5 separate regions of the Homo sapiens genome follow, and regions 2, 3, 4 and 5 are each linked to region 1. The links come from fine-mapping of genetic effects on gene expression. A gene starts in region 1. Each other region holds a variant in brackets. All regions are shown on one strand. Distances are between the middles of the regions.

Region 1 (5,106 bases):
CTAATTCCAGCCAAAGCCCAGCATAGTGGTTCCTGCCTGGGCTGGGGAAGATAAAAATCAAACAATTAAACAACTGGTAAGAAAAAACTAAGACTCCAATACAAAAACCATCAAAAAGCTTTTGCTAATAGCTAACAATAAGATTTCACTTAAAACATATTAATAATGACAGATGTGAGTTAAAATAAGGAGGTGCCATTTTTATCTGTGAAATTAGCAAAGTTTTTAAAATAATAATGCTAATATGGGTGTCATAAAACTGACGGTGGCAATGTAAATTGGCATAATCTTTCTGAAAAACAGTATGGCAATGTTTCGATGTTTTGAGAGCATTCACAATGTTCCTGCCCTTTGACCTCCCTATAATTTCATTTTTGGGAACTGTTTTTTTATTTTTTTTTGAGACAGGGTCTCACTCCATTGCCCAGGCTGGAATGCAGTGGCAAGTTCACTGCAGCCTCGAACTCTCAAAAATATCTTGGTCTGGATGGTCATGTACATGGTCACCCAACTTTTTGGCCACATTAAGAGTTTTGTCTTTATTCTAAGAATAATGAGAAGCCATGATGGATTTTGAGCTAGAGGAGGTTGGGGGGTAGCATAATCAAATTTTAGTTGTGAAAATACTACTCCTGCTGCAGGGCAAAGAATGGATGGGAATATTGAAAGGAAAGGATAAATACCTTTAGATTAGTTAAGAGGCTACTACTGGACAACAGATCATGGTAGATTGGTCTAGGGTAATAGTAGCAGAGACAGAGATACTCAAATGGATTTGAGATTTGGTTTGAAGATAAAATGAATAGAACTTGATGATTGTTTGGATATGGAAAGGAAGAAAGTGCGAGGTGTCAAGGATGAGGCCAAGATTTCTGATTTGCAAACTAGAGGTTGGTATGACCCATTGAGATAGCAACAGAGATTTACACGAGCTAAAAATTTAAATGCGCGATATATCTGCATATCCATCACTGTCTAAAGGCACGGGCCTGGAGAACAAGGAAAGAGTTTGGGTTCAAAACTTGTTGATGTTCCTTTCCATTCACAGAGCCCTCTTTCAAGGCAGGACTATCCTATTTTCTGGTTGGATATTGGAGTCATTTGGTGGTCAGGCAAAAAAGAAGGTCCTTCTTAGCTGGTGATATGGGACGGGGAGCACCAGACCACTCTTAGCATGCAAATATCCCTTACTAACGCTCAAGTGCTTTTCACATGTACTGTTCACAAAACAGCTTCACATATAGGTTCACTGAAACCCACGACCTTGTGAGAAATTATAATCTACATTTAGGAAGCTGAGGGAGAGTTCTTAAATTACCTGTCCACAGAGCCAGTACGGGGCTGCTTTATGTCATCCTTTCACCTCCTATGTGCAGCCTCTAGGTGCAAGAGACTATCTTAAGGGCAACAGGAAACCTACCATATAATGGGGTCCCACTAGGTACCAGGCTCTAGCAGTTTAAAAAAAAGAAACACAACTTCAGAACTTCTAAGGATGTTTCCCACACACTTACCCCACAGTAAGTTCGCTTCTAAACTTTCAAAAAGTTTCACGTCCCAAGATGGGGTGAAGGTGAGACGGTGGAGATGAACCGGGGCAGACAGAGACCACCCCAAATACCGGACCCGGGGGAAATGGGGTACCAACGGCTGGGCCCCAGGAGACACTCGGAGGGGTCCGCGGGCTCGGCCCGGTCCCTCCGCTGGGGGGTTACCAGCCGGCCGGCAGCGAGATACCCAGAGGCCCGTTTTTCCACCGCGTTGCCATAGCAACGGCCTGGCCGGCTGCGCCCCGGGCCGCCCGCCCCATCCCGCGGGCCCGCCCTGAGCCAGTGACTCCAGGGACCACTCACCGCGGCCGGCGGACTGGCGGGTCTCCGACAGGTGCGCACACTCGGCGCAGGCTGTCGCTGAGCCCGGAATTCTGCACCGGGAGAAACTTTTCAGCCCGCAGAGCAACCGCAGGGCAGTGGACGGGGGCCGCGCGAGGACAAACAGCGGCGGCGGGTGCAAAGCCCCTTCTCCAAGCCGCGGGGTTGGCCGGGAGGTGCCGGCTGCACAACGGCGCCCACGTGACCCAGGTGCAGCCCCAGGCGCGCCCAAGGGCAGCTCGCCTTAGAGAAGGACCTAAAACCCCGTCTGGGGCACAGAGGAGCAGCCACGTGTTACGTAAAATAAAGCTTTGTAGCAGGAATATCACAGTACTGAGGTGATTGATGCTCAGGCCACTCTTCTCACTCGGAGTCAAGCCCATCAAGCCCCAGCCAGTTGGAGCAAGGGCTGCAAGCCTTGAACTGCAGTGAGTGGGGAGCTGGCCTAAAAAGACGGGAAAATGCTGGGGGGAGGGTGTTTGTCCCCACGCAGGGGCTGAGAAGACTCCTGACAGATCAAATGACGATTCTCAGGGATATGTTTTAGCTACAAACCTATGAGAACCATCTGAATGCCTGCCCCATGCAACAGAGGGTCCAGCTGTATGCTAATGTATTTACTGGCCTGAACTAAGAATGGCTTCTGTGGTCCTGGGTCCTACTCTCTAGCAGTGTGGGGAAGAAATTCAACTCTCCTAATACTAGCCTAATTATTTGAGGCAGATGTTCTCTAAAATTAGCTGATTGATAGCCAGTAACTTGATACGGCAGGTGGATTCATTGTATTGCTTCGGGGGAGGCTACATTTGGCAACTAGTTCATCCAGTCCTTTTCATCAAAAAACTCAAAATGGTCATAATGGGTGACTGGTAACTTCAAACTTCAAACCACTGGACTAGGCCGGGCGCAGTGGCTCACACCGATAATCTCAGCACTTTGGGAGGCCAAGGCAGGAGGATTGCTAGAACCCAGAAGTTCAAGACCAGCCTGGGTAACACTGGGAGGCCCCCATCTCTACAAAATTAAAAACTACCTGGCCACCAAAGGGCTGCAAGAAACCTACCATATAATGACGTCCTACTAGGTACCAGGCTCTAGGAGATTAAAAAAGATCTCCTAGGATAATCTCCCGCATCTTAAGGTCCTTAATCACATCTGTAAAGTGCCCTTTGCATATAAGGTAACATATTCACAGGTTCCAGCCTGGGCGACATAGCCAGCCCTGCCTCTAAAAACAAAAGCAACCACTGGACTGCGTTTTGCCCTGGATTAAACCAGACCACCAAAAAACTGTATGTTTGTACCATTTTGTCTTCACCGTTGGCAACATTGCATGAACCAAGTCATGTTTAGCACTATGCCATTTGCTTATATTAAGAGATGCTGTTTAAAAAAATTCATGATACCTCTGCATTTACTAGAGGGATTACTTTAAGAATGTTGTTTATTACATCTTTGTAGCAGAATCCTACCAGCTTGTCCAGCGCAGAGCTTTTCAAACTTTTTTGAGCACAATCCATCAAAATAAATATGTTTTACATTATCACTCAATACACAGGTACTCATATATTTAGTAAATGAAACAAGTTTTATAAAACATTACCCACATCACATGCTATGCACCCTGATACTTTTAATCTCTTTTTAAGGCTAGTTTCTACCCACTAATGGTTTCTTGACCTTCAATGCAAGTTGCATTTCAAAAACAGCAGTATAACCAGATGTCTTTTTCTGGAAACTAGACCTGGATCCTCAGACAAGGTAACCAGGCCACCTGACTACAGTTGATTGCTCCAATAGTAGGGACCTGACTCAAGATAAGGCAATCATATCCCTCTCCCAGGAATTTGGAATTAGGACAGAGAGATTGCAATCTTTCTCTAGGAAGCTAATGTGGAAACACAGAACATCTTTAAAATAGAAAATCAGAAGCCTTCAACAGACATACTTTCCCACCATGTGGCCAAAAGCAATGTAGAAAGCCAGGCTGCAGGGAAAATGGGAAAAGAAGAGGAAGGCTGAAAAAGATATACAGAAAGAAGAGACCAAAAGAGTTCTGACGGCTTTCCATTCCTAGTCATGGTATTTTCTGAAATGAATTGTATTCCTGCCTTTGAATTCCATATAGTATTTCCAACTCTTTGGAGTTGGGAGGAGGGGCCTACCACACTAATATAATCACCTATATGCCCCGTATAGGAGGGTCAATGCAAGAAATATATTTCAATCCTGAGTGCCAGAAAAGAACACTTTTTCCCTAGAGAAACTGACATGACTTTTTTTAATAAAGAAAGCAGACCATGAGATTGATCACATTTCCCTTTCACCTTGACTTCAGGAAGATAGCACCCAAATTTGCAACTCAATTTTAATAACTTTGTCAAACTACAGTTTGCATATCTGCATCACAACTTTCTCCTGTTCTCTTTCATTTCCCCTCATTCCTACTTTTATCTTTTTGTTGTACTGACTATTATTTTAAACTGCTTCAAATATTTTGCACTTGCTGTTTCCTCTTTCTGTAAGGCTCTGCCCCTGTATCTCCTAAAGCCTGGTTCCTTCTCATCATTCAGATCTCAGCTCACTTGCCACCTCCTCAGAGAAGCCTTCCTTGATCTTCCTACCTAAAATAGCCCCACCCCACAGTCTATCACATCACCCTGCTTTGTTGTCTCAGAGCACTTAACACCATCTAAAACAAGCTCTTTATTTTCCCTGTTTCCTCACCAGAAGCTAAGCTCCAAGACAGCAGGGACCTGGCCTCTTTGTTTATTGCTTGTTCCTAGTGCCTGGGAACAGTGCCTGGAACTTAGTAGCTAGTTAGTAAACATTATGGAGTTAATAAATAAAAGAATTAATAGAAGAAAGGAGGGGAGGGAGGGAGGCAGAGAGGGGAGGGGAGGGTTGAAGGAAAGAGATTTTGTTGAACATGGTAAGATATAGATGGATAGGTAAATAGGTGGATAGATAGACTGACAAATAGACAAATATTCATTTCCAGTGTGCAAATGTCACTAATATTTATAGAGAGGAACCAGAGGAACTATACAAGAAAGTAAAATATACTCGATTCCCTAAAATATATACAGAAAGATCCTAGGTTTCCTTGGGTAACTCTTGACATAATGCCTTAGACCATTTTTTTTAAGCATTCAAGTCGCTCAAGGCAGCTACATTAAATATTAGGGCTAGTAACCATAGCTGAAGTCATCAATTCTCAGTGAGATAATGGATT
Region 2 (5,106 bases), 160 kb before region 1:
CCATGTTGGCCAGGCTGGCCTCGAACTTCTGACATCAAGTTATCCACCTGCCTTGGCCTCCCAAAGTGCTGGGATTACAGGCATGTGTCAACGCACCCAGCCCTAACCCTGGGAATTTCTATAGGACCTAAGTCAATGCCAAAAAGCCATTAAAACGGACACAACTCATCAAAAATTGTATATGAAATCAAAAGGGTCTGAATGTGGAAAAATCAGACAATAATTTGACCCTTTGGCCTGAAAGGGTGAAAGCTAAGTGTACCTAATGACCAACATCAGTAAAACCATGAGCACTGTGTATAAAGTGAACATGGACTTGTTTTCACATTCTTTAATACAGAAACAATGTACCTTTAGACTCTTAATAGAACATGGCAAGCCTGTAAAGCTATTACTTCAATAAGTGATCTAGGTCAAAACTACAAGAACAAGCTTAAAAGCTGAGTTCAATTCTTCATAACACAATATCAACAAATGTCAGCCATCCTCATTACTGTCAACTCCAACATCTGAGGGCAATCCTATAGATAACAACCAGATTTGTCCAATGACAACCAGACAGATGTAATTAGATTCATCACAGGGGCAACTCTGTGTCTATTCTTCAACTCTCAGGAATATATTTTTATACTTCATTGATGAAAGAATAAAATGGCATAATTTCATTATACTTCCCAAACTGCTGGTCTACACTGTACATAAGTATAATAATCTCTACATCTTTTAACAGTTACATTTTTACTAATTTTCTTTATATTTTTCTTTATTTAAAAATCTAACTCATGAACATTTTCTGAATAAGTCAAAATTTGATTTTTTCATAGTAATGATGATGATTATGATGACTTTTGTGGGGGGAAAAGTTGCTTTCATCCTAGTGGTTTATCAAACTAGACCAGACAATAGAGCTTTTTCATTTACCAATAGGTTCTTACTAAGTATTTATCAGTATCATATTGTTCTGCAAACTCTTATTTTAATACTTTTTATCTCTCTAGCTCATTCTGATTTCCTCTCTCTCATCCTATTCACCTTGCTATTGTTTAGTTTTAAAATGCAATTTAAAAAGCTATGGAAAACAAAATAGCCAGAAAAATGGCCTTCTGGACAATTACTATCTATTAAAACAGTGCAGGCCAGCAAAGGCCTAGTTCATTGAGCCTGTTATCAACCAGTGATATGCACATCCACCAATTTCTTAGCTGCCTCTGCATTGCCTGACTAGCATGCAACTATAGCTTAAGGGCTACATCTTAAAAAATTCACTTTTTTTTCTGTTCTTTGCAATTTTATTTACATAAAAATGTATCTAATGGTTGGTCAATCAGCAGCATACAAAATTTTATGACAGCAATTTCCTGCACATCCAGAAAAGGGAATCCAAGACACGAAAAATATCTCTTAAAGTCTTCCTACTATTTTGTTGCATTCATAGAAATCAAAACAGCAGAGGACAAAAACTACAAAGAATATTTACTTATGCTAACTTCACCTTGAGAAAGTATGTTATCACCATCTGATTAAATAGAAATGAATCAAAGGTAACGGATAAACAAGAAAATAAACCCCCTGGAGAAGGTAATATGTTTGTGCTCTTGATTAAGGAAATTATAACACCATTGGGCTCAGACAGATTAATGAATAGGCACTGATTAGCTAAGTAAGAGTCTACTGTAAAGAGAAGACAACATTATTATGGTGATATGCAGTCACACTCTGAAGCAGAAAAATTAAAATTATATTTCTAAGAAAGAGAAAGATATTTAAGATATAATACATTCACTTTCCTTAACACCAAGTTCAAACTAAGAAGGCAGCAAACACTACATGAATTGCATAATATTAGATTATATATAGGATGTTTGACTCATGGTTTCTAGAAAGTCTTCAGAGTATAAAAGACTAATTTAAAAGTTATATTTGAATTAAAGACTAAGGCTCAGAATTTTTGCACTATGATTTTAATCAGCACAAAACGATGATCAAAAACTTTTTGAATACTTTTATACTTTATGTAATCTAAGCAACGATGTGTGTTGACCAGCTGAGTTACAGCTACAATCACATCATCCAATTTCTACTGCCTGTATATTCCATTTCACACAACTGTGAAAATGTAACTACTGTGATGTCAATATTTAGAAATGATCTGGAAGAGGCAGTGCATAGTGAAATCTTCAATATGACCATAAAACTAATGTTGCATCAACATAAAAATGTTCACATTCAGCAAGAGGCAGAACAATGGTCACTAACTTTTCAGAACACCTCTTAGAAAATTCACTTTAATTCAATTTAACAAACATATTGAGCACTGAATGTATGTCTATTATACCAGATACCAGGAATGCAAAGATGAATAATCTAAGGTCTCTGTCCTCCATGGAATTTAGAACAAGGAAAACAGATACAATATATATAATATTATAATATGGTTTTTAAAAGCTTTATGAGGATACATAAAAGGGAACAATGAATTCTATTGGATTTACACATGTGTAAACCTTCCTGGTTAAATGTTCCTATTTTATTATTTTTTCTTTCAACATTACTGTTTTGCATGATACCTTAAAATCTTTTGTGGAGCATGAGAAAGTATATACCTAATAAATGTAGGAACTCTGCTATGGTGGGGTAAAGTAGGAGTAGAGAAATAGAAGGCCTTAATGTTTGAGCTGGGTCCACCCAGGAGAGAATCTTACAGAGAAAAAGAATACACACATACCCATACACACTCCAGAGGCATATGACACAGGGTGTGTCCGAGTATTGA[A/C]ATGTGACCTGGAATCATTATAGCACAGTGTAGGTGCACAGGAATACATATCCAGCCCCAAACTGGAAAGGCATTCTGGAATCAGGTCATGAAAGACCTGCTCTGCTATGCCATGCCATGCCATGCCAAGATGCTCTGACACTTCTCCGTATACAAATACATATATATATGTATTAGATTACATATATATTATATTATAATTATATATATATATATATCAGAGGCTTTTATATATATATCAGAGGATTTTAATCAGGAAAGCAGTATGATCAGATTTGTGATTTGAAAGGACACCCCTGGCAGCAACGTGAAGGACAAACATGGGGAGGGTGACCAGAAGTAGGGAGAACAGTCAGAAAGACCCTGCAATAGTCTAGAAAAGGAATCATAAGGAGAAAAGATACAGGTGAAGAGAAATCAAAGAATAGGTAAGGATATTTCAAAGGAAAAATGAGCAGGACATGGAGTTTGACTGAATCTTGAGAATGACAGAGAAGGAAGAACAAGAATGACTGAAAGCTCCAGCAGCACAACATCATTATGGGAACTGGGAACTGTAGAATACTCCCTAGATCCTAAGTGACCCTCTGCCTAGTTAGTGCCCACTCCCACCTATGCTCTGCCTGTATGGGTAGAACAAGTGCCAGGCCACAGTACCTCCCTACACCTGATAAGCTATAAGTGAACCTCATGAGAAAACACAAAGAAGCTTTTGGTTTGTAGCAAAGGATACGGAAGGTGTTAAGATTTTTCATTTTGCTCAGATCATATTGTTGTATTTATAGATCAATGAAAACCAAAGCTGAAAGTTATAAATTTACAGTATTAAAAAATACCTCAGGGATGTATGTATACCTGACAACTAATAAGAGAGCTTTTAGAATGATCTCCCAATTGGTTTTTAAATCACTTTTTAAAAATATATATTAGTTTTAATTTAAAGTCTATATCACTCTACTGTTAGAAACTATCCACTCATCTTAAAGTGTACATTTAGCAGGCTACTTACAACATGTACATTACGACGCCTATGCTCCAAATGTCACACTGCTGGCTATAGTCGTGGGCACTGATAACTTCAGGGGCTGCCAAACAAGCAGATATAAAATAACATTAATAATACAATAAATGTCTTTTAAATGCTTAAACACAAGCATGAAAAATGTGCTGATGTGCTGTAATTTATTCCCCCATAGGGAAAAGAGAACCAACAGCAGATCTTAAATGAATAATGCACAGGCCTTAACAATTGATGTCACTGTAACCTCACTCCTATCATTTAGCTTCTAATGGAACAATGGTGTAAACTGTATAACTAAATGCACTACCCTTTATTTCTTTAAATTGTTAAGAAATGATTTTGCAAAGATTCTGTAGTTATAGTAGAAGACAACAATATCCCAGCCCTTTCCACAAAATAGAATTAAATATATGCCTTAAGTAGATGTAACATAATGCAGGCCCAATATGTGGAAATCTGGATTCACAGAAAAACTAAGGTACGTGGTTATAAATCACTTTAGTAAAATAATAATAGCATCACTCCTATAACAGAATATGAACTATTTTCTGCATTTTCAAATAAGAAAGCCAAGACAAAGAGAGAGCTCCTATAAAACTGGATCAAAAAGCCAACTAGTCACAGGACATAGACTATACTAAATATATATATGTGTGTGTGTGTGTGTATTTTTTTTTTTTGAGACAGGGTCTCACTCTATTGTCCAGGCTGGAGTGCAGTGGCATGATCACAGTTCACTGCAGCCTCAAACTACTAGGTTCAAGGTATCATCCCACCGCAGCTTCCTGAGTAGCTAGGACTACAGGTGCATACTATCATGCCTGGCTAATTGTTTTTTAAAAATTATTTTAGAGATGGGGTCTTGCTGTGCTGCTCAGGCTGGCCTCAAACTCCTGGCCTCAAGTGATCCTCCCACCTCAGCCTCCTGAATAGGTGGGATTAGTGGCGTGAGACACCACACTCAGCTGGCTGCCTTTTTAAAAAGTCACAAATGACACTGCAGGAACATGTCTATTGTACCTCTATAGCTATGAATCAGATATATTTAAGAAAAAATAAAAAGAAAATAGTTATAAGCAGAAAAATACAATATATGTATATATTTCAATAGAACTTTAAAATTTATACTTTTGCATAAATTGTTATTTGTATGAAGTATGTTAAGAATTCTGTGAGATAGATACGTAAGCATTTGACTCCCTTTGCCAATGAGGAAACTAAGTTTCACATATATTAAGTGACTTGCCTAATGTTACACAGCTGCAGAGTGCCTCCTATGCAAAAGGTGCGTTTTTATTTTAGAAAAGTTTCA
Region 3 (5,106 bases), 92 kb before region 1:
ATCTGAAAATGAAATGAAGTAAACAATTCAATCCAATAGTATAAAAAGAATAAATTAACAGAATAAGTGCAAGACTTGTACACATGAAACTATAAAACTTCATTGAAAGGAATTAAAGAAACAAATGGAAATACATTTTGTCTTCATGTATTGGAAGAATCAATACTCCCCAAACTGATCTACCAATTCAGTGTAATCCCTATTGAAATTCCATCTACCTATTTGTAGAAATTGACAAGATAATTGTAAAGTTCATATGAAAATGAAAGGATTTACGATAGCAAAAACAATCTTGAAAAAGAACAAAGTTACAGCACTCATACTTAATGATTTTAAAGCTTACTTCAAAACTATAGTAATCCAAACACTGTGGTACTGGCCTACAACAGACATATAGATCATAGGACAGAATTGAGAGTCCAGAAATGAGACTATATACATGTAAAAAACAAGTGACTAATTGAATTTTGACAAGGGTAGGTACCAAGACAATTCAGTGAGCAAAGAACAGTCTTTTCAGCAAATGGTGCTGGGATAACTGGATATCTACACACAAAAGAATAAATGTAGACCCATATCTCACACCATATACAAAACTTAACTCAAAATAGATCAAAGACCTAATTGTAAGGGCTAAAACTATAAAACTTCTAGAAGAAAACATAGAGGTAAATCTTTGCGATGTTAGATTAGGCAACAGTTTCTTAGATATGACACCTAAAGCATGAGCAACCAAAGGAAAAATAGATACATGGACTTTAAAATAAGAAACATTTGTGCTTTAAAGGACACTATCCAGAAAGTGAAAAATAACCCACAGACTTGGAGAAAATATTTGCAAATCATATAGTTAATGAGGGCCTACTATCAAGAACATGTAAAGAATTCTTACAACTCAAGAATAAAGAGACAACCCAATTTTAAAATGGGCAAAGAATTTGAATAAATTTTCCCAAAGAAAATATACAAATGGCCAATAAGCACATGAAAAGATGTTCAGCATCATTAGTTATCAAGAAAATACAAATCAAAAGCATGAGATATCACTTCACATTCACTAGGACAGCTATAGTAAAAAACAAATAAAATAAAATAACAAGTGCTGGAGAGTGTATAAAGAGATGTGGAGAAACTAGAACCTCCATATACTGCTGGTGGGAATGTAAAATGGTATAGCCAGAAATCAGTTCGGGATTTCCTCAAAAAGTAAAACACATCTACCATATGATCCAGCAATTCTACTCTTAGATCCAAGATAATTGAAAACATGTTCACACAAAAATGTACACAAATGTTCACAGCAGCATTATTCATAATAGCCAAAAAGTTGCAAACAACCCATCAGCTGATGAATAAGTTGCAAAAATGCCCATCAGCTGATGAATAAAGAAAACATGGTATATACATACAATAGAGTATTATTTGGCCACTGATATATATTCAACATGGATGAACCTTGAAAATATTCTGCTAAGTAAAAGAAGCTAGATACAAAGCCCATATATTATATGAGTCTATTTATATGAAATGTCCAGAATAGGCAAATCATAAGAGACAGAAAGCAGATTAGTGTATTTCAGGGCTTGGGAAGTGACTAATAGGTATGAGGTTTCTTCGTGGGGAGATGAAAATGTTCTCAATTACATAGTGTGATGATTGTACAACCATGAAAATATATGTTTTAAAATGGTAGATTTTATGGTCTATAAATTATATTTAAATTTTTAAAAATTAAGTCGTCCCTAAAAATTTGCCAAAATTAATTTAAGTGAAGTCTGTTACCCAACTTCAAACTATACTACGGGGCTACAGTAACCAAAAAAGCATGGTGCTAGAACAAATACAGACACACACCAATGGAACAGAATAGAGGGCCCAGAAATAATGCTGTGCACCTACCAGCATCAAATCTTTGACAAAGCTGACAAAAGCAATGGGAAAAGGACTCCCTATTCAATCAGTGGTGCTGGGATAACTGGCTAGCCATATGCAGAAGATTAAAACTGGATCCCTTCCTTATACCATATACAAAAATCAACTCAAGATGGATTAAAGACTTAAATGTAAAACCCAAAACATAAAAGCTTTGGAAGATCACCTAGGCAATACCATTCTATACATAGGAACTGGCAAAGATTTCATGATAAAGATGCCAAAAGCAACTGCAACAAAAACAAAAATTGACAAATGGGACCTAATTAGACTAAAGAGCTTCTGCACAGAGGAAAAAAAGAAACTAATCAACAGAACAGACAATCCACAGAATGGGAGAAAATACTTGCAAACTATGCAACTGACAAGGGTCAAATATCCAGAATCTATAAGGAACTTAAATTAACAAGCAAAAAATAAACAACCCCATTAAAAAGTGGGCAAAGGACATGAACACTTTTCAAAATATGACATACATGCAGCCAATAAGCATATGAAAAAATACTCAACATCACTAATCATTAGAGAAATGCAAATCAAAACCACAATGAGATACCATTTCATACCAGTCAGAATGGCTATTTTTGAAAAGTAAAAAAATAACAGATAGTGGTGAGGTTGCAGAGAAAAGGGAATGCTTATACACTGCTGGTGGAAATGTAAATTAGTTCAACCACTGCAGAAAGCAGTTTGACGACTTCTCAAAGAACTACCATTTGACCCAGCAATCCCATTATTAGGTATACACCCAAAGGAATATAAATCATTCTACTATAAAGACACATGTATGCATATGTTCATTGCACCAACACTGTTTACAATAGCAAAGACATGGAATCAACCTAAATGTCCATCCACGGTAGACTGGATAAAGAAAATGTGGTACACATACACCATGGAATACTACACAGCCATAAAAAAGAATAAGATCATGTCTTTTGTAGCAACATAGATGGATTGGAGGCCATTATCCTAAGCAGACTAATGCAGGAACAGAAAACCAAACACGGCA[T/C]GTTCTCACTTATAAGTGGGAGCTAAACACTGAGTACACATGGACACAAAGAAGGGAACAATAGACACTGGGGCCTGCTTGAGAATGGAGGGTGAGAGGAGTGTGAGGATTCAAAAAACTACTGATTGGGTACTATGCTCAAACCTGAGTGACAAAACAACATAGACACCAAACCCTTGCAACATGCAACTTATTTATGTAACAAACCTGCACATGGACCCCTGAAACTAAAAGTTAAAAAGTCTCCATCTTGAAACTATTAATCCTAAATGCTTTCCCAGCTCAAAGGATCTATGTCTTTGACTAGCATTTTAGTCAGTTCGACTTAAAATTCACTACTCTTTCTTCCTTGGGTGGGAAGCCCTTCTTCATTTCTCCCAGTCTACACCTTCCAGCCTCTTATTATGATGATTTAGCCCACTAGGTCTCATTCTTTTTATCTGACTTGTCACCAATCTCCTTATCTATATAATAAAGGGACTCCCTCCCCTTTCTAACACTTCTCCTGTACTTGAACTTGACTTCTGTGTTTTAAATAGGTAGGACTCTTTTTCCTTCAGCAATTAACAAACATCAAATGGAACACAATAGCTTTAAAAGGAATTACATAGAAATTGTTTCACAATGGACTTTAAAACTGTACTCCTTAAGTTCCCAGTGGCTAAAAATAGTCATTTGTTTGCTCTGCCAGGAACTCATACAAAATAGGAAAATTTTCCCCGCTCCATGTTTTATCTCCTCTACACAATAACAAAATAAGTGCAACAGACTATTTTAGCCAGACATAAGCCTGTCAAAGCTGAAAAACAGGATTCAGAGGAAAGGGTAGATAGGAGCTTTTCTACTCCACTCCCATGAAACTGACAGCTACTGCTGTTATGAACCAATACATCATTATTTACATTGGGTGTGGGAATATGTAAGCTTTGTAAGAAGCACAGAGAGCCCTTTGACAACTAGGTCAATTCTCACAATGGCAACACCCTAAGCAGCATTTCCAGGGGTAGCGGTTGTAATGTGCTAAAGCTGGCCTGTATCAACTTGCAAGAGCCAATTGTTAAATTTTCAGGAATTTTGAGATATAGTTGTCAAATACAATTACTATTAAAAATTAAATTATAGGCCAGGTGCCATGGCTCACGTCTATAATCCCAGCACTTTGGGAGACCAAGGTGGGAGGATCACTTGAGGCCAGGAGTTCAAGATCAGCCTAGCAACACAGGGAGACCTCATCTCCAGAAAAATAAAAAATAAAAATAAAAAATAATTATCCAGGCATGGTGGTGTGTGCCTGTAGTCCTAGCTACTTGGGAGGCTCAGGAGGATCACTTGAGCCCAGGAGTTCGAGGCTTCAGTGAGCTACGATCACGCCACTGTATTCCAGCGTGGGTGACAGAGCAAGACCCTGTCCCTAAAAAAAAGGAAAATAAATAAATTATATAAACTTATAATAAATGATATAGGAACAAAAGTAATAAATACTCAAAATTCATCACTTCCTAATCATTTCATCACAGTTTATGCTGCAATCTTGCGGTTCTTTGTGCCTACTGCATTTGTATGCTGAAAATACTACACAATGGTGTGTTCATGCACATCTCTTCCCAACTCCACAGCAGTGATGGCAGCTTAAAATTAGCCATGGTGGGTGTGCTTATACCATGGAATTGGCAAATGCCATAAATCAGAGCTTATTTTTCTGGAAAGGTGATTGCTAAATATTTACCAACACACCACTGGACAGCCATAAACTGTAGTCTGTTTTTCCTCTGGAATAGCCTATTGGTTCCACTTCGAAACTCTTATTCAGTGCTTAGCATCCTGATTTGCATCTACATATGCCTGATATATAAGCTAATGATAAAAGTTCACCAAATGAAGCCACGCAGTCTGTTACCTATTTAAAAATTGATATTTTTCATAGATTTATTGAATGTTAAAGTTGGAAGGAGCCTTAGAAGGCATGTATCGAAACTGTTCACTAGTGGAAGGACTCTCCCCTCTGACATTCTCGGACAGATGTCAATTTAGTTTCTCTCCTCTCTGTGCTGCCACGTGTGCTATTCCCTCCACGTGGGACATTCTTCCTACCATCCTGCCCTTGCCCAGGTTCATCTTTTTCTGGATCACTCTTTGTCACTCTTAAACACCACCTCTTCCAA
Region 4 (5,106 bases), 78 kb before region 1:
CTCTGAAGGACTTCCAACCTACAGCAATAGGCATCAAATCATCTCATTCTCTAAAATTGAGTTGACGTGATCCTGGACTGGTTATACCCACAGGCGCTAGCAGGAACAAACATAATCCTTCTCTGAATGTTGATGACACCATCCTGGACCTCAGATTATCTCTGCAAACAATGTTTCAAATATAATGTCTGGCAAACAATTTAATTTTTTTAAAACAGCCACATGACTAGACAAGCAAACATGAATAAAACCAGGAATATAAACTCACCAACTGAGGCTCCAAACATTAAAGTTATCAGATAGAGACTCTAACTATCAAAGAAATACAGACAAGAAAATTATAATAAATGAGAAAACACAAAAAATGAACAAAAGGACATTAAAGACCTGAAAAATGCAATTGCAAAAATTAGAAACTCAAAGGATGGTCATAATAGCAGATTAAACTCAGCTGAACTGGAAGAGAAGTCAGAAAAATGAACAATTAAAATGCATCCAGATTAAATCAAGGAGAAAATACAAAATATTGAAAAGAATACAAGAGACATATGGAATAAACAAAATTGACAAACTCTTAGCTATACTAAGAAAAAAAGAGAATACTCAAATAAAATCAGAAATGAAAGAAGAGATATTACAGCTCATGCTACAGAAATAAAAAGAATCATAAGAGACTACTACGAACAATTATACGCCAACAAACTGGATAACCTAGAAGAAACAGAAAAATTCTTAGAAACATAGAACCTACCAAGATAAATTCAAGAAACAGAAAGTCTAAACAGATCTATAACTAGTATGGCAATTGAATCATTAATCAAAAACCTCCCAACAATGAAAAGCCCAGGATTATAGACTTCACTGGTGAATTCCAAATTCATTTTATAAGAGCTGCATTAGCCCGATACCAAAGCCAGATAAAGATACCACGAAAAAGGAAAACTACATGACAATATCTCTGATGAATACAGATGTAAAAATTCTCAACAAAACACTAGCAAACTGAATTCAACAGCACATTAAAAGGATCACAAACCATGACCAAGTAAGACTTATCTCTGAGATGCAAGGATAGTTCAACACATGAAAACCAATCAATGTGATACACCATATTAACAGAATTGAAAATAAAATCACATCTTTGTCTCAATAGATGCAGAGAAGCATTTGGATAAAATTCAACACTTTTTCATGATAAAAAACAAAAAAACTCTCAACAAACCAGGAATAGAAGAAAACAATCCCAACGTAATAAAGACCATATATGAAAAGCCCATAGTTAACATCACACTCAAAGGCGTAAAACTGAAAGCTTTATAAGATCTGGGGCAAGAAAGACATCCTATGTTCATGGATTGGAATAATTAATATTGTCAAAATGCCCACACTGCCCAAAGCAATCTACAGATTAAACGCAATCCTTACCAATATCCCAACAGCATTTTTTACAAAAAGAAAGCAATCCTAAAATTCACATGCAACCACAAAAGACCACAAATTGCTAAAGCAATCTTAAGAAAGAACAAAGCCAGAAGCATCACACTTCCTGATTTGGAAATATATTACAAAGCTACAGTAATCAAGAATATAATACTGCCATAAAGATAAACATATTGACTAATGGAACAGAATAGAGATCCCAGAAATAAACCCATGCATATATAGTCAACTGACCTTCAACAAAGATGCTAAGAATACACAATGGAGAAAGAACAGTCTCTTCAACAAATGGCACTGGGAAAACTGGATATCCACATATAAAAGAATGAAACTGGGGGCAGATTCCTAGATGGCCGAATAGGCACAGCTCCAGTCTGCAGCTCCCAGCGTGAGCGACAAAGAAGATGGGTGATTTCTGCATTTCCAACTGAGGTACTGGGTTCATCTCACTGGGGCTTGTCAGACAGAGGGTGCAGCCCACGGAGCAGGATGGGGCATCACCTCACCCGGGAAGTGCAAGGGGCGGGGGAATTCCCTTTCCTGGCAAAGGGAAGCCGTGATAGATGGTACCTGGAAAATCGGGGCACTCCCACCCTAATAGTGCACTTTTCCAAATGACCTTAGCAAATGGCATACCAGGAGATTATATCCCGTGCCTGGCTTGGCGGGTCTCACACCCACGAAGCCTCACTCACTGCTAGCACAGTGGTCTGAGATTGAACTGCAAGGTGGCAGCAAGGCTGGGGGAGGGGCGTCCGCCATTGCTGAGGCTTGAGTAGGTAAACAAAGCGCCCTGGAAACTCAAACTGGATGGAGCCCACCACAGCTCAAGGAGGCCTGCCTGCCTCTGTAGACTCCACATCTGGGGCAGGGCATAGCTGAAAAAAAGGCAGCAGAAACTTCTGCAGACTTAAACGTCCCTGTGTGATGGCTTTGAAGACAGTAGCGGTTCTCTCAGCACAGAGTTTGAGATCTAAGAACGAACAGACTGCCTCCTCAAGTGGGTCCCTGACCCCTGAGTAGCCTAACTGGGAAACGCCTCCCAGTAGGGGCCAACTGATACCTCATACAGCCGGGTGCCCCTCTGAGACAAAGCTTCCAGAGAAAGGGTCAGGCAGCAACATCTGCCATTCTGCAACATTTGCTGTTCTGCAGCCTCCGCTGGTGATACCCAAGCAAACAGGGTCTAGAGTACGCCTCCAGCAAACTCCAACAGACCTGCAGGTGAGGGTCCTGACTGTTAGAAGGAAAACTAACAAACAGAAAGGACATCCACACCAAAACTCCATCTGTACGTCACCATCACCAAAGACCAAAGGTAGATAAAAACACAAAGATGGGGAGAAACCAGAGCAGAAAAGCTGAAAATTCTAAAAATCAGAGTGCCTCTTCTCCTCCAAAGCAATGCAGCTCCTCGCCAGCAACGGAACAAAGCTGGACGGAGAATGACTTTGACAAGTTGAGAGAAGAAGGCTTCAGACGAT[C/T]GGTAATAACAAACTTCTCCAAACTAAAGGAGGATGTTCAAACCCATTGCAAAGAAGCTAAAAACCTTGAAAAAAGATTAGACGAATGGCTAACTAGAATAAACAGTGCAGAGAAGTCCTTAAATGACCTGATGGAGCTGAAAATCACAGCATGAGAACTACGTGACGCATGCACAAGCTTCAGTAGCCAATTTGATAAAGAGGAGGAAAGGGTATCAGTGATTGAACATGAAATTAATGAAATGAAGCGAGAAGAGAAGTTTAGAGAAAAAAGAGTAAAAAGAAACGAATGAAGCCTCCAAGAAATATGGGACTAGGTGAAAAGACCAAATCTATGATTGATTGGTGTACCTGAAAGTGAAGGGAAGAATGGAACCAAGTTGGAAAACCACTCTCCAGGATATTATCCAGGAGAACTTCCCCAACCTAGCAAGGCAGGCCAACATTCAAATTCAGGAAATACAGAGAACACCATAAAGATACTCCTTGAGAAGAGCAACCCCAAGACACATAATTGTCAGATTCACCAAAGTTGAAATGAAGGAAAAAATGTTAAGGGCAGCCAGAGAGAAAGGTCGGGTTACCCACAAAGGGAAGCCCATCAGACTAACAGAGGATCTCTTGGCAGAAACTCTACAAGCCAGAAGAGAGTGGGGGCAAATATTCAACATTCTTAAAGAAAAGAATTTTCAACCCAGAATTTCATATCCAGCCAAACTAAGCTTCATAAGTGAAGGAGAAATAAAATCCTTCAGAGACAAGCAAATGCTGAGAGATTTTGTCACCACCAGGCCTGCCTTACAAGAGCTCCCGAAGGAAGTACTAAACATGGAAAGGAACAACCGGTACCAGCCACTGCAAAAAACATGCCAAATTGTAAAGACCATCAATGCAGGGAAGAAACTGCATCAACTAACAAGCAAAATAACCAGCTAACATCATAATGACAGGATCAAATTCACACATAACAATATTAACCTTAAATGTAAATGGGCTAAATGCCCCAATTGAAAGACACAGACTGGCAAATTGGATAGAGTCAAGATCCATCAGTGTGCTGTATTCAGGAGACCCATCTCACATGCAGAGACACACATAGGCTCAAAATAAAGGGATGGAGGAAGATCTACCAAGCAAGTGGAAAACAAAAACAAAGCAGGGGTTGCAATCCTAGTCTCTGATAAAACAGACTTTAAACCAACAAAGATCAAAAGAGACAAAGAAGGCCATTACTTAATGGTAAAGAGATCAATTCAAAAAGAAGAGCTAACTTCCTAAATATATATGCACCTAATACAGGAGCACCCAGATTCATAAAGCAAGTCCTTAGAGACCTATGAAGAGACTTAGACTCCCACACAGTAATAATGGGAGACTTTAACACCCCACTGTCAACATTAGTCAGATCAACAAGACAGAAAGTTAACAAGGATATCCAGGAATTGAACTCAGCTCTGCACCAAGCGGACCTAATAGACATCTACAGAACTCTCCACCCCAAATCAATGGAATATACATTCTTCTCAGCACCACATCACAATTATTCCAAAATTGACCACATAGTTGGAAGTAAAGCACTCCTTAGCAAATGTAAAAGAACAGAAATTATAACAAACTGTCTCTCAGACCACAGTGCAAACAAACTAGAACTCAGGATTAAGAAACTCACTCAAAACCGCTCAACTACATGGAAACTGAACAACCTGCTCCGGAATGACTACTGGGTACATAACGAAATGAAGGCAGAAATAAAGATGTTCTCTGAAACCAATGAGAACAAAGACACAACACACCAGAATCTCTGGGACACATTTAAAGCAGTGTATAGAGGGAAATTTATAGCACTAAATGCCCACAAGAGAAAGCAGGAAGGATCTAAAATTGACACCCTAACATCACAATTAAAAGAACTAAAGAAGCAAGAGCAAACACATTCAAAAGCTAGCAGAAGGCAAGAAGTAACTAAGATCAGAGCAGAACTGAAGGAGACAGAGACACAAAAAACCCTTCAAAAAAATCAATGAATCCAGGAGCTAGATTTTGGAAATGATAAACAAAATTGATAGACTGCTAGCAAGACTAATAAAGAAGAAAACAGAGAAGAATCAAATAGACACAATAAAAAATGATAAAGGGGATATCACCACCGATCCCACAGAAATACAAACTACCATCAGAGAAT
Region 5 (5,106 bases), 31 kb after region 1:
CACTCTAAGGCAAAAGACAAACAAATACCTGTGACACACATTTGTGGCAACAAACCCCGTCATGCATATCTTCTACTTATATCTGCTATTCATACCTTTGGCCACACATCTGTCATACAGTAGTTACCTACACTATAGTCATTCATACATAGTGGTGACAAGTCTGCCGTGGATCTCCTTCTTGAGAGGAGGAAGCCCACCTTCTTTTAAAAAGATGAACACAAGTAACACTCAAGAGGCTGCCTATGGGTAAGTGTTGGGTCAGGCACTGATGGGCCAGTTTCTCACCTTCAAGATGAGCTCAGAAATCACTTGTTCTCAGTACACCAGTGTTGCCTCCTCTGAGGAGTCTTTTTGTCCAGCCTCTGCCATGTCAGCCAAGTGCTGGGATTCCAGCAGTGCTTGAGAATCCAGCTCACACTCCATGGAAAAGAGGCTCCCAGGGAGTTCTCCCCTGAGTATGCAGTCTATGGAGATGGGCAGGAGGCAGTGATGGGGCAAAAGGATGAAACTAGCATCCATTCAGCACCAGGCAAGGTCCTAGGCACTGTACATGCGCAAGCAGGGTCTAAAAAGTTTAACTGCATAAAATGCAGAGTTACATTATTGTGTGTAATAAGAACCAACGATTTTTCAGTTGGCCTTTCAGTCAGTGTGAAAAAAAAGGAGAAAAATTATTTCTTTCGTTTTCATTTATTACACATATAGGAAACAGACTAATCATTACAAATTAAACACGCATCATACATTGAACGAAAAAAGTCCCAAATGATCATCAGGAAGTCGCTTCCTGACTTCCCAACTAGCCCTCACCTTCCACAGAAGAACAAACTTAGCCTAGCCTGGTTGGAGAAGGGGCATGGGAAGCTGAGAAGCGAATCAGAACCAATCTCCAATGGTCCAAATTGCCTTCACTATGAGGCACAACACAAATCCACATTAGTGTCAGGTACCAGGAAAATCCTTACTACTCAGAGGAAGTTATCAAATGATTTCACTATAGTTACTGGTCCCAGTAGCCTAAGAAGTAGGTGCGATTGGCCCCATTTAGAGAGAAAGAAATCAGTTGAGGGAGGTTAGGTATCTTACCCGGGATCACAGGGAGAGAGAACTGGTTTACCAAATTCCATCTATCGGACTCCAAAGTCAGACATGCTCTTTTCCCTATAACATTTTGTCAAGGCTAGCCCTCCTGGGCTGAGTTCTGTTTCCCCCTAGGTATAATGCAGACCCCCAGGACTCTTTGCATGGGGAGTGTTACAAAAAGAGTAAGTCCTGGCCATGCCTAGATCAGCCATGGCCACAGTGAGGGAAGCAGAACAGGTGTCACTAAGACAGTTCCGGAGGAGAGAAGTAAATTCAGCCTCAGAGAGATGCACTGCTTCCCCAGCTTAGAGCTTGTCTGCTGGCCTCTCTTACCTAGAAGTGCTGAGTCCATCTGCTCAAGTCTGTGGCCAACATGAAGGGCAGGCTGCTTGAGTCTCACCTTTTGGGTTCTGGTACTGCTGCAGAGCTGTAGACGTGCTGACCACTGGCGCCAGTGGAGGTTTCTTCACAGAGAGGTTAATTGGCTCCTCCAGTTCTGAGGGGATGGCCAAGTCCTTGGGAGCATCCAGACCGGGGACTATGGGACCTTGTCCCAGTAAGTCAGTGAAGCGAGTGGAATCCTCACTTTCCATCTTTCAAAAGTGAAATGTCGACAAGAATCAAAGAACTCAGACATGGTTGTCATTAGTGGTCTCAGAACTGTTAAGCTAAGGTCAGAATAAGGGTCCCAGTGGCCAATCTTTTGCCCAATGATGAACAAAGGAAGTTTGGATAGCATTTCCCCAGGACTTACCTTACACAGAGCATTCTCCAGGGAGGGATCAGCCCCATCTCTGGGACACAGGCTCCCTGAAGTTCGGCCAGAACTGGAGCTGGACCCAGTTTCTGGCTGCATGTCAGAAACTGGAGGGATGCTCTGCAGAGGACAAGTTGCCAGACTCGGCACAGCCTGGGTGTGACCAGACATTAGGCTGGGCCCAGCCTGAGGGTGATCACTTGCCAGGCTTGCCATAGCCTGAGGGGAGTCACTTATCAGGTTGGGCATGGACTGGAATGTGCTATGCACAAGGCTGGGCACAGTCTGTAGGTGACTGGTTGTCAGGCTGGGCATGGCCTGGTTTTGAACACTTGTCAGGCTGGACACCATTTTGGGGGGAGCACTCAGCAGGCTTGGTACTGCCTGGGGGGCACCAGCTGTCAGGTTGCTCACACTCTGGATCTGTGGCTCTAGGGGCCTCTCCAACCTGGTAGATGACAACTCCATCTCCAGAGTGTTGGAAAAGCCCATGATGCTCA[G/C]CGAGGTGGAGTGCTGCAGGAACAGAGACAAGGGGTAGAGTCAGGCTGCTAGCTGGGAATGGAGGGAGGGAGAGGAGGGACCCAACCCACAGGAACTCCCATGCTCCAATTCCACTCTGGCTTCAGAGTCTGGTAGCTGCTGGTAGCTGCCAGGAACTCAGGCAATGCATGAAGCCCTGTTCCTCTTCCTGAAACCAAGGAGGCTGCTAGGCTATGACATAGAGAGAGAGGCACAAGCGGAGAACTATTGTGTGTGTGTGTGTGTGTGTGTGTGTGTGTCACAGCAAGAGTGAGAAGGAGAACTTATTGCCTGACCTGAGGCATGTACACACACACACAGACACACACACAGACACACACACACACAGCCATATCCCTCACCCCAGTCTTGTACCTAAGCAAAGGGTCCGGCTGTGGGACTGCCCTCTAACTTCAAATTCCCCTCTGACTATACCACCAGTGGCTTCTCTTCCCGTCAAGGGGTGCTATAGAATAGTTTCTGCTATACAAAAGTAGCAGGGGGTTGAGAAGGCTCAAACTCTTATCTGCCTCAGACCTTCTTTGAGAGAATGCCAAGGCTCAGAAAGTTCCAATCAGTCCTGGGGAACCTGGGTCAACTGCAGGGCCTTCTTATGGGGTTGTTCAGATCAACTCCAAGCACTACTAGCATTTGATGTAGGCTTTAACCAAGATATTTGAAGGTCTTTTCTGGCCCTAGTATACCTGCCAAAGATATTCCAAACCAGAGGCAGAGAACATCAAAGCAGCTAAATCTTAATATCACCCAATCCGTACAATCATTGGATAAGGCAGTAATGTTCTGACTCCAAAATTATTTTCTTACATCTGAGGAGAAGAGATGTAAAAGGTTTATAAAAAGAAGTTGAAGATACAGATTTCTGTACTGAATCCATTCCATTTTTCAGATTGAAGAGACAGATTTAGGGAAAAGGAGGGAGACTGGCTCTAAATATAATCTTCAGGAATGTGTAAGTTTCATATCCCTGCCCTTTAAAAAAAAGACTAAATATATAACAATTTCACATCTTTTGAAAAACAAAGAGAAAATGGGAATTAGGCATATCTATCTAAGTTTCCAAAATCAGTGTCTTGAACCTGTCATTTCTTCCCCATTCACATTTTCACAGGAAAATAAATACTTCAAATACATTCTCAAGTTTCAATATAAAGTTACTAAAGCTATTTTGCCATGAACACTGTCCTCATCTCAGTGAAAGTCACTCCTAGTCATTCAGTTCTGCAAGTCAGATCCTAGGAAGGAGGCATCAGTGAAGCATCCCTCCTGCCACACCCAAGCTAATACCAAGCCCCATCAATTCTACCCCTTAAACATCTCTCAAATATACCCACTAATTCTTCCCTCTGCTAATGGTGCCCTAGCCTAACCTACTTTCACATCTCCCTAGACAACAGTAGTAGCCTCTTCAATGGAGAAGTATTTTCAAAACACGGATCCGATCACATCATTTCTTTTCATAAAACCCCGCAGTGCGCTACATTCTTCTTAGAATAACTGCAAAAATCCTTAACAAGACTCCCGAGGCCCTGATGACCTGTCCTCTGTCCTCCTTTGTAGCCATAGCTCATTCAATAACCCTCTCCTCATTCACTGAACTCTAGTCACTCATTTTTTCCAGTTCCTGAAACATACCAAGCTCTCCCTCCACCCACTATCCTCACCCCCTTCAGATGGACTGCTTTCTCTGCACAGAGAATTCTCCTACCCCTGCCCTGTTCCACTTATCCTTCAGAACTCAGCTCAACTGACATTTTTTGCCAGAAAGCCTTCTTTCATTCTCTAGTCCAGACTAGGTTCCTGCTTTTATGCTCTCATATGCCTTGTACTTGTACTTTCAGCTTCATACCACAATCCGTGATATCATTTGATTAATGTCTGTTTCCCCTACTAAAGTGTAAACTCCATTAGGGTACGGATTTTTATCTATTTTGCTTACCCACCATATTCCTAGACCCAAGAGCAGTGTCTGGATGAATAAATGAATTAATGAGCTGTTTAAAAATTCAAAACAACACTAATACAGGACTGTTTATTCTACAAATCTTTAGCCAAATGAACAGCAGCTTAGGTCTACTGACAACTTAGTCTATGAGTCTCTCTAAAATAATGATTATTTTTATACAGCTAAAGTTTATTGAGAATTTATTATATGCAAGGCAATTTGCTAAATGTTTTACATATATTACTTTATTTAATCCTCACAATAACCATTAAAGGTTAAAAGAAACAATCCATGTGAACATTTAGAACAATATCTGGCATACTGTAGATGCTCAGTAAACCCCAGTTGTTTCTACTGCTGCTTCTATTATTTTTATTGTTATTATTGTTGCTGCAGACCTAGTTTTACACTTGACAAAGATGAGGCTCAGAAGGGCATCTTAAGTTTTTTCATGTTATTATAAAACATAATTTTGTAGATTTCCATTTCTCTTTATTGTTTGTGTACTGTATATAGAAATACAATTGATTTTTGAATACTGACTTTGTATAGACCTTGCTAAAGTCACTCTGGGATTTTCCTTTGGATTTTCTGTGCACACAAATCATGTGCATCCATGAATAGTAAGTTTTTGTTTTGTTTTTCTGAACAGGGTCTTGCTCTGTCACCCTGGCTGGAATGCAGTGGCACAACCACAGCTCACTGCAGCCTTGACCTCCCAGGCTCAAGCAAGCAATCCTCCCACCTCAGCCGCCAGAGTAGCTGGGACTACAGGCGCATA

Direction of the effects. Alleles are on the strand shown, and positions count from the first base shown. SD is a standard deviation of normalised expression in the study named. Not every link is listed here.
As copies of C replace A in region 2, the expression in transverse colon of the gene that starts at base 1,999 in region 1 goes up (small effect, 0.36 SD a copy in GTEx).
For the expression in lymphoblastoid cells of the gene that starts at base 1,999 in region 1, allele C in region 3 goes with a higher level than allele T (large effect, 0.80 SD a copy in CAP).

What was found. PIP is the estimated chance that this variant, and not a neighbour inherited with it, causes the effect. A credible set is the group of variants that fine-mapping cannot tell apart.
Region 2: its variant is the best candidate, but not a certain one, in a credible set for the expression of STK33 in transverse colon (GTEx, PIP 0.66).
Region 3: its variant is the best candidate, but not a certain one, in a credible set for the expression of STK33 in lymphoblastoid cells (CAP, PIP 0.57).
Region 4: its variant is the best candidate, but not a certain one, in a credible set for the expression of STK33 in atrial appendage (GTEx, PIP 0.88).
Region 5: its variant is the best candidate, but not a certain one, in a credible set for the expression of STK33 in whole blood (TOPMed, PIP 0.75).

The regions. Positions count from the first base shown.
Region 1 is chr11:8,592,230-8,597,335 of GRCh38, forward strand. It overlaps STK33 (serine/threonine kinase 33), which reads right to left and starts at 1,999. Exons shown (of 16, transcript NM_001352389.2): 1 at 1,854-1,999. RefSeq lists a silencer at 1,562-1,821.
Region 2 is chr11:8,436,896-8,442,001 of GRCh38, forward strand. It overlaps STK33 (serine/threonine kinase 33), which reads right to left. Exons shown (of 16, transcript NM_001352389.2): 12 at 3,783-3,858. Among named protein-coding and RNA genes, the nearest start is that of STK33, 150 kb to the right of the region's middle. The variant A/C (reference allele first, on the strand shown) is at 2,774.
Region 3 is chr11:8,500,442-8,505,547 of GRCh38, forward strand. The region is part of intron 1 of STK33 (serine/threonine kinase 33); the gene reads right to left. Among named protein-coding and RNA genes, the nearest start is that of STK33, 91 kb to the right of the region's middle. The variant T/C (reference allele first, on the strand shown) is at 2,945.
Region 4 is chr11:8,514,598-8,519,703 of GRCh38, forward strand. All of the region lies in intron 1 of STK33 (serine/threonine kinase 33), which reads right to left. Among named protein-coding and RNA genes, the nearest start is that of STK33, 77 kb to the right of the region's middle. The variant C/T (reference allele first, on the strand shown) is at 2,925.
Region 5 is chr11:8,622,873-8,627,978 of GRCh38, forward strand. It overlaps TRIM66 (tripartite motif containing 66), which reads right to left. Exons shown (of 25, transcript NM_001388022.1): 16 at 1,841-2,356; 17 at 1,487-1,679; 18 at 1-4. Among named protein-coding and RNA genes, the nearest start is that of STK33, 31 kb to the left of the region's middle. The variant G/C (reference allele first, on the strand shown) is at 2,344.